2 linked regions of the Homo sapiens genome follow. The protein of the gene in region 1 interacts with the protein of each later gene in a pairwise test. Each region holds a gene or a part of one and is shown on either strand. Other genes may lie near its edges.

Region 1 (4,028 bases):
TAGGTATCTACGGCGGCTTCTTATTGGGAGTCAGATCTGTAAATGGCTTAGCCTTCTATGACTGGGACAATACAGAACTCATACGAAGAATTGAAATTCAGCCCAAACATGTGAGTTTCCCCTCCATTGTTGTTTTTGGAATATTTATTTTTGTGATGAGTTCTGGGTCCCTAAGGCCAAGAAGTGTCTTTTGTACCCTGCTCTCCCTCTTCGATTATCAAAAGCCATTTAAAATATAAAACAGCACTTAGAATTTAAATAACTTCTTATACTTTTGAAATACACATTGTCTACGGCCTCATTAGGATACAACAATCCTGATTTTCTGAGCAATTGGAGGTAAGTGGCAGTGCCATTTTGACAGGAAAAAAGCATGCTTTGAGAACAAGAAGTCAGAGAATTCTTGACTTGGAAATGCCTTCTTCCACATAGTTCAGAAAACCTTTTCATACATTTTGATGATAGCTGCTTGAACTTGAGGTGACCATCTCCAGTGACAAAGTGTTTACCTTTAGAACTGCCCGCTGCTTTGACAGTTTTCACTGTCAGGAGATTATCTTTGGAAACAAACCAGCTTTTCTGGGGTCTGGTTCTAGAGCACGCATCCTCAGTGGGTGTAAACATTGACTTGGGGGCTTACTCTTTATGAATAAAGCATAGCTATACATATGTATATGCATTATATATGTATATCTGTGGTATTAAAATTTCATTGGGGGAGGTGATTAGAAAAATGTCCAGAAAGACTTCTAGGGAGGGTGGGTGAAAATGAAAAAAATAAAAAAGGTGATAAACACTGTTCTAGAGCAAGAGGGAATAGGCTACTGGTCCTCTGTGTAGCACATTCAGTGTTTACTGACAGCTCTCCTTTCCTGTCTCCCTTTGGTCTTTCCATTGCTAGGCTAAATAGCATAGCCACATAATAGCTGGCCACCCTCCCAAATAATGCCACATAAAATTGTTAAGTGAATACTTATCATCTTGATATAAGAAGGTAAATGTTGTAAGAAACCAAGTATGTGCAGTTTGTCATATCCACTCAGAAATCCAAATCAGTTGTCTATGATTTTGTTGTGTTGCAGATTTTCTGGTCTGACTCTGGAGAGCTAGTCTGTATTGCTACTGAGGAATCATTTTTTATCCTTAAGTATCTGTCAGAAAAAGTCTTGGCTGCACAGGAAACACATGAGGGAGTTACTGAAGATGGCATTGAAGATGCCTTTGAGGTAATTGCATCAGCACAACTTTCGCTTTCAGCTTTGTTTTTAAATGATTTATATTCTTACAACAGACTTTACTGATTTTAACATTTCGTTATAAATTAGGTGTAGGGAGACAGCATTTAAGGATTTCTGGTGAAATGTGAAAAATTAAAATCGTAACTCATAGATCAAAATTTAAAATAAATATGTTTAAAAGAAATTTGTACTTTGATTTTAAGAATTCTTTAGACTTACTTTGATATCTTTCAGTAAAGAAATTATAGTTGTTTTGGTCCTAAGACTATTTAGTCAGTGATTTAAATAAGCTCCCAAATGGTAAATCATTTATTGTGCAGATGTCCTAGATTTTGTGAAATACTTAATATTTCATTGTCATGTTATGAAGGGTCTAAGTTTAGATCAGTATTCTTTTATATCATGATTTTGACCCAACAATGAGATTTCACATTACAAATACTAATCTAGGAATCTGTTCTGTGTTTTGTTTTGTTTTTTTTTCTGTTTTGAGCCTAAGGGTTATATTGAGTAGGAATCTGTTCTTAAATGAAGAAAGAAATTCCAGCGGGGTGCAGTGGCTCACACCTATAATCCCAGCACTTTGGGAGGCCGAGGTGGGCAGATCACTTGAGGTCAGGAGTCTAAGACCAGCCTGGCCAGCATGGTGAAACCCTGTCTCTACGAAAAACATAAGAATTAGCCAGGCATGGTGGCGGGCGCCTGTAATCCCAGATACTTGGGAGGCTGAGGCAGGAGAATCACTTGAATCCGGGAGGTAGAAGTTGGCAGTGAGCAGAGGTTACGCCACTGTACTACAGCCTGGGCAACAGAGACTTCATCTCAAAAAAAAAAAAAAATTCCAAGGAAAATTTTTTTTTTCTAGAAATAGGAAGGATTTTACTTTGCATTCCTTATTCTGCCATATCACCCTCAGATATATTCAGCTTTTTATTGAGAGATTTCTGATGTTGGATAAAGTAATTGTCTTTATTTTTCTTTCTGCAGGTTCTTGGTGAGATTCAGGAAATTGTGAAAACAGGGCTTTGGGTAGGCGATTGCTTCATTTACACAAGTTCTGTGAACAGATTAAATTATTATGTTGGAGGAGAAATAGTCACCATTGCCCACTTGGACAGGTACCTGAGTATCATTTTGCATTTGTCCTAAATTTTAAAGTGTGTTTAGAAAAATCTGTTGCTGGCTTGTAGCAATGATAGGCTGATTTTTCAGTGTTATAGTTTTAGTAGGTTGCCTATTGTTAACCAGAATTGTGTCAATCAAATGGGAAGGTTTTGAGCAAGAGGGAGATTGGCGGGGTGTGTGTTTGTGTAATTGCAGATTTGAATTTCTAACTTGGTTTCTGTTTCTTTTATAGGACGATGTATCTCCTAGGCTACATTCCTAAAGACAACAGGCTTTATCTGGGGGATAAAGAATTGAACATCATTAGCTATTCCCTGCTGGTTTCAGTCCTGGAATACCAGACAGCTGTCATGCGGAGGGACTTTAGCATGGCTGATAAGGTCCTTCCTACCATTCCAAAAGAACAGAGGACCAGAGTTGCACACTTTTTGGAAAAGCAGGTAAGAGGTTTTGTTTTTTTCTTTTTGTTTTTTAAAACTTGCAATTTGAAAGCAAATTATTATGGAGTTGAAAAACTTTATTTCTTAATTGCCAACTGATTTCCTGTGGCAATAGAATTTCTCCTGTGAGTTTAAGGCACTTATTACAGCACATGATACACCCTTCTTACACTCTTCCTTCTCCTTTCTCAGTGCCCCCTTTAAATGTTGGAGGTGATTTTCAGTCTTCCTTTTCTGTGCACTTATTTTCCAGTCTCCTGATATTTTCATTTCTACACTGCATTTTTAGCTTTATCCCATCTGCTTTTTAAAAAAAAATGATTAAAATACATATAAAATGTACCATGACATGACTTTTTCTTATGTAATGTTTTTTAAGCAAAGTTACATATGTGCAAAGCATAAAGTAAGTTTTGCAAAGCTTAAGAAAAAAATCAGCCCTCCTTTTTGCTTTCTACTCCCTAGAGGTAATTATTTTATCTAATTCTTTTGGTATTTATTTCCATATCTCTAAATAACTTGAGGTATAGCAGTTTCTTCATTTCTTAGCTTTAGGCATTTCTTGTGACTTCCCCCTCTGTAGAAGATGAGAATTTCGCCTTCTTTCATTCCCCTGCGTCTACCACATACATGCCACTTTCCTATCCTTTATCTCTCAGAATAGTTCTAATTTTGATTGATCACTACTCAAATGTTTACATTATTATGGCTATGTAATCACTGCTCACAGGTGAACATGTAGCATATTATCTAGCTTTCCTTTCCTGCAATTGTTTGTTTTCCCTAGTTTATAATTGTCTTTTTCCCCCCTTTGCTTAATTTTCTATGTACCTGTGGTTAATTCTCCCTGGACTTTGCTGGTTCTCCAGAGTTCCTGAAGATCTCCTTTCAGTTTGCTTAGTCTCCTTCAGACTGCACTGGTTTTCCTGCTCTCATCATGGATTTCCCCTCACCATCATGTTGGGGCTTCCTTTGCTTCTGTCCTGTTGGATCCATTGTTTCTTATACCCCTATCTCCTTTCCTGCTTTGCTCCCTCATTTTAGGGGAACATGCCCTTCAGCAATTTCCTGAGAAAAGGATTGTTAATGAGAGATAAATTGTTTTGTGACTTTGAATATCTGAAAGTGCCATTGTTCTACCCTAAAACATATTCAACCATTTAACTGGTATATAATTGTTGGAGGTAATTTTCTCTCAGAATTTTGAAGGCATTGTTCCATTGCC
Region 2 (4,183 bases), on another chromosome or scaffold:
CTGTTGCCCGGGCTGGAGCACAGCAGTGTGATCATAGCTCACTGCAGCCTCTACCTCTCTGGCTCCAGCGTTCCTCCTGGTGCAGCCTCCCAAGTAGTTGGGACCACAGGTGTGCGCTACCACACCACCATGCCCAACTACTTAAATACCTTTTTTTTTTTTTTTTTTGGTAAAGATGGCGTCTCAAACTCCTGGCCTCCAGCAATCCTCCTGCCTCAGCCTCTCAAAGTGTTGGGATTACAGGAGTGAGCCATCATGCCAAGTAAGTTATTTCTTCACACTAAACATTCTTCAGCTCTTAGTTGCAGAGTATTTCTAGCATGTGAAACTTCATACAATCAACCACAAAACACAGACAAATCAGTATGTATCAAAAAGAAGTAACTGAAAAACACAAAATATTGTCTTTGACAGAATGACTATTTTTTCAGACCCTTAATAGTGACCAGGCCTTCGCAAGCCTAGAAGGGACTCCTGGGGGTGTTTTCATGAAAGGCCTGTGGAACCGACTTGGTATAGCCTCATAGCAATAACAAACAGTTTAGGTATCATTTTGTCCAGGGGAAATACAAATTACAAAATCAAAGCTAGAGCCTTTTTAGTGTTGTATGCCTGGCAACACACCTCATTCTACACTATAGCACTGCTAAGCCTCCTGCCCTCCTTACAGTCCAGACCACATGAAAACAAAGTGGTAACTAAATCCATGCAAGAAGCTGGGTGAAAGCCTCCTTTCTGTGGGTGCTAATCTGAAGTTCCCTCCCTCATCTGAGACGACCTGCCCATTTTGGCAGAACATGTGTTAAGCCAAAATCTCACACAGATGAACTCCCAAGTCACTCACCTCGCTCCAACCACTTTACATTTAGTTTGAGAATGTCACAGGAACAAATGTCATCTCCTATGATTTGAGAAACAAGAATAATACAACACCACCATTAAGTCCACCTACACTGCCTTAATGGTGCTGTTGGTGCCTTGCTCCCGTATTTTGGCCGCTGCAAAATGGGCTTAAATATGTTTGTAAATACATAACTTAATATTGAATTCATCTTCCCTATTCCGCGCATTTTGAGAACTGTGCTTAGTTTTCACTTTGGACGAATAGCAACCCTTCTGATGGCCGTCATGACAATGTCTCCAATAAAAACTGACAGTCTAGCTGGCTGCAAGGCAGGTCCTCTTCTATCTTACTGGGCACTGCTAAACTGCGAAGTCGGGGCGACACGGCAGCAACTTTAAAATCAAACCGCATCCCCAAGGGCTCGGCGTGTTTTTTGGCCTCTGCAGCTTCACGTACTTCGTACGACAGGAGCGCACTTGTTCTCTGTCCGAGAACTTCGTCCCGAGAGAACCTCAGGAACTCGCCGGGCCACACCCCCTGTCCAGGGAAGGAACACGCCCCCGGTGACAGCCGGTACGGCCCCGGGTTTGGGCAACCTCGATTACGGGCGGCCTCCAGCCCCGCCAGCAGCGCCCCGCGCCCGCCCGCCCGCGCCCCTGCCGCCCCCCGGTTCCGGCCGCGGACCCCACTCTCTGCCGTTCCGGCTGCGGCTCCGCTGCCGGTAGCGCCGTCCCCCGGGACCACCCTTCGGCTGGCGCCCTCCCATGCTCTCGGCCACCCGGAGGGCTTGCCAGCTCCTCCTCCTCCACAGCCTCTTTCCCGTCCCGAGGATGGGCAACTCGGCCTCGAACATCGTCAGCCCCCAGGAGGCCTTGCCGGGCCGGAAGGAACAGACCCCTGTAGCGGGTAAGCACTGGCCACACGGAAGGCGCGGGCGGCGACGCTGCGCATGCGCGCCTTTGCCCGGCGGCAGCGCGCCCGCTGCCCGGAAGGAAGCCGTGGGCTGGCCTCGGGCGGGTCGCGGGGTGGGGGTCTGCGCAGGCGCGAAGGGGCGCCGGCAGTGGCCGGGGAGACGCTGGGGTCCACTGACGTCCCTTTGTCTTTGTTTGGCTCGTCATCTTCTGGAGCCAAACTGGGCATTCTGAAGGAATCTAGTGCATCGGTCTCACTTACCCGGAGTGCATACCGTCGCGGCCCCAAGTTTTGGGCAGGAAATGTGCCGCTGGGGTCTGGCCTTGCTCGCGGGCGCCCGCGGCGCTGTGCCTGCGCCCTCCTTTCTTGTCTCCTCTGCGCCGGCCGCCGGGACCCAGGGCACCTGCAGCGGGGCTGGTGCGAGTGTTGTCCCGGGAAATGCCGGAATGAGACGAGACGATGAAAACCTTAAGTGTGGAACTGCGTCTCAGGCCAGTGTTCTGGCTGAGTCACCCCTAGTCACCCCTCGTGCCCTAGGTCGGCCCCGCTGTCCCCAGGGGCAGGGGCTGCCGTATGCTGGGTCAGCTTAAAGCGATGCTCCACAAACTTGGACAACTTTCTAGTCGTTCTCACATCAGTACTTTGGGAAAATACAATAAGGGTGAAATACTAGAAAAATGTTCACGTGCTTCGATGCCATGTAATGGTAAACTGCTATAAAAGTTTTCAAAATCTTGGCAATTTCTGCTGCAGACAGCACGCGTTTCCCAGAACGAGGGCCACACGTTAATATTACCTTAGTGCAGCGCTTCTCAGAGTGCCCCCACCTGCCGCAGCAGCAGCAGCATCACCACCTGGGTGGGCGTTCCCCCATTACTGAATCGGAGACTCTGGGGGTGGAGCCCAACAATCTCTAAAACAAGTCCTCCAGGTGATTGTAATGTACGCTGTAGCTTGTAAACCACTGCCTTAGAGCTGTTGGAGGATTAAGTGATGTTTAATCTACACATGGCTCAATGCCAGAGAAATTCAGCATTTAAAAAATTTCCTTAGAAGTTTCTTTTTCTTTTCCTTCAAGAATTGTTGAGGATAGGAGGAGGTCATATTGAGAGTTTGTCATCTCGTAGAATAATCAGTATGAGATTAGAAAAGGTAGAGGTTTTTTGGATTAGAGGCAGTTTAGAAATCGTGTGACTGGCTTATTATTAATCGAATTAGCAGTTTCTGTTTCCTGGTTTCCCCATCATTTCACCTGCTACTCAGCCGTAAAAGTTTATTTTTGATTCAAATGCAGAGATTGAGTTTTGAAACAAATCTAGATTAGTAAACATCTATACTTATATATAGATTTATAAAATATAACCAGATTATCTAAAACTTATAAATGCATCTTAAAATTTTTTCTTTCTTTTACAGGCAGGAATTTATACGTGCATGTTTAAAGGCGATACTTTTCAAATGCCAGACTTCCTCAGCTTGTGCTATACTTCCCGTTCACACACTGCCGTGTCTTTGCTATGCCCTCCCATACACCAAAAAAAAAAAAAAAAAAAAAAACCCCAAATAATCCAAAAACTCTTGTTCAGATTTCCAAACTGGTTCAAGGTCAAGATGGACCAAAATTTACTTTGGCTTTATCTTAACCAAAGTCTTCCCAATCAGTTTCCTAATATGTAAATGACATTTTTGGTAAAAGATGAGCAAACATTTCAGAAATGAGCCAACAATTTTTTTCTTATCCCCATCATAACTTTTAACTGCAAAACCTCAGGACCTGGTTCTTTTCCAGGCTCTGCTGTCTCCATATAGCTGTGAGTGTTTTTGGTACACCAACACATCTCTGTATCTGGGCCAGTAAACTTTTTTTTTTTTTTTTTGGTGTAGGGCCAAGCCTACAATGCATATGTCCTTATTGTTCATCTATTGTAACTTTTTCCACAAAAAGTGTGTGAAATTTAGATTGTGGACGTTCCAGTCTCCACTTCTGAGCCTTGAGAGGTTGCTGAAAGCCCTGACTGGCTCCAGAAATGGGCAGTGTTACCTCTTCAGTGGGTTTCAGTAGCTGTAAACTTGAAACTTAAGGATTTAGTATTGTTCTGAATGTGGAATTCACCTCCACTGCAACTTGGATCCTGTTTAACAACTCCTCCCTTCTCTATATTACCTCCATCCATGTCTGTTCTTATTTGTACCCTGACCCTCAAAAGTTGCGTGACAAAAGCATCACCTTTTGACTGCAGAAGGCCTGTTTCTTTAGTGCGTTTAGATAAGCCTAGTATCAGGTGTGTACCATTACCAAATACTTGAGGTGTTAAGGATTACCATCTTAGCGTTCATCCTACCATTTTTATATTCTTAAGGACAATTCCACCCTTTTACACACTGTGACCAAGATTTCCACCTTGCAAGAAGGAAAGAGTCAAACCT

Evidence for each region.
Region 2: the proteins of COPB2 (region 1) and MSRA interact in a two-hybrid assay, tested with the Homo sapiens proteins (one large-scale study listed by BioGRID).

Annotation. Positions count from the first base shown.
Region 1 is NC_000003.12:139,365,343-139,369,370, reverse strand, and holds part of COPB2 (coatomer subunit beta'), read left to right. Parts: intron 1-3; coding exon 4-110; intron 111-1,082; coding exon 1,083-1,226; intron 1,227-2,225; coding exon 2,226-2,356; intron 2,357-2,595; coding exon 2,596-2,803; intron 2,804-4,028. UniProt on the Homo sapiens protein: The coatomer is a cytosolic protein complex that binds to dilysine motifs and reversibly associates with Golgi non-clathrin-coated vesicles, which further mediate biosynthetic protein transport from the ER, via the Golgi up to the trans Golgi network.
Region 2 is NC_000008.11:10,052,909-10,057,091, forward strand, and holds the start of MSRA (mitochondrial peptide methionine sulfoxide reductase isoform a precursor), read left to right. Parts: upstream 1-1,383; 5' UTR 1,384-1,608; coding exon 1,609-1,750; intron 1,751-4,183. UniProt on the Homo sapiens protein: Has an important function as a repair enzyme for proteins that have been inactivated by oxidation. Catalyzes the reversible oxidation-reduction of methionine sulfoxide in proteins to methionine.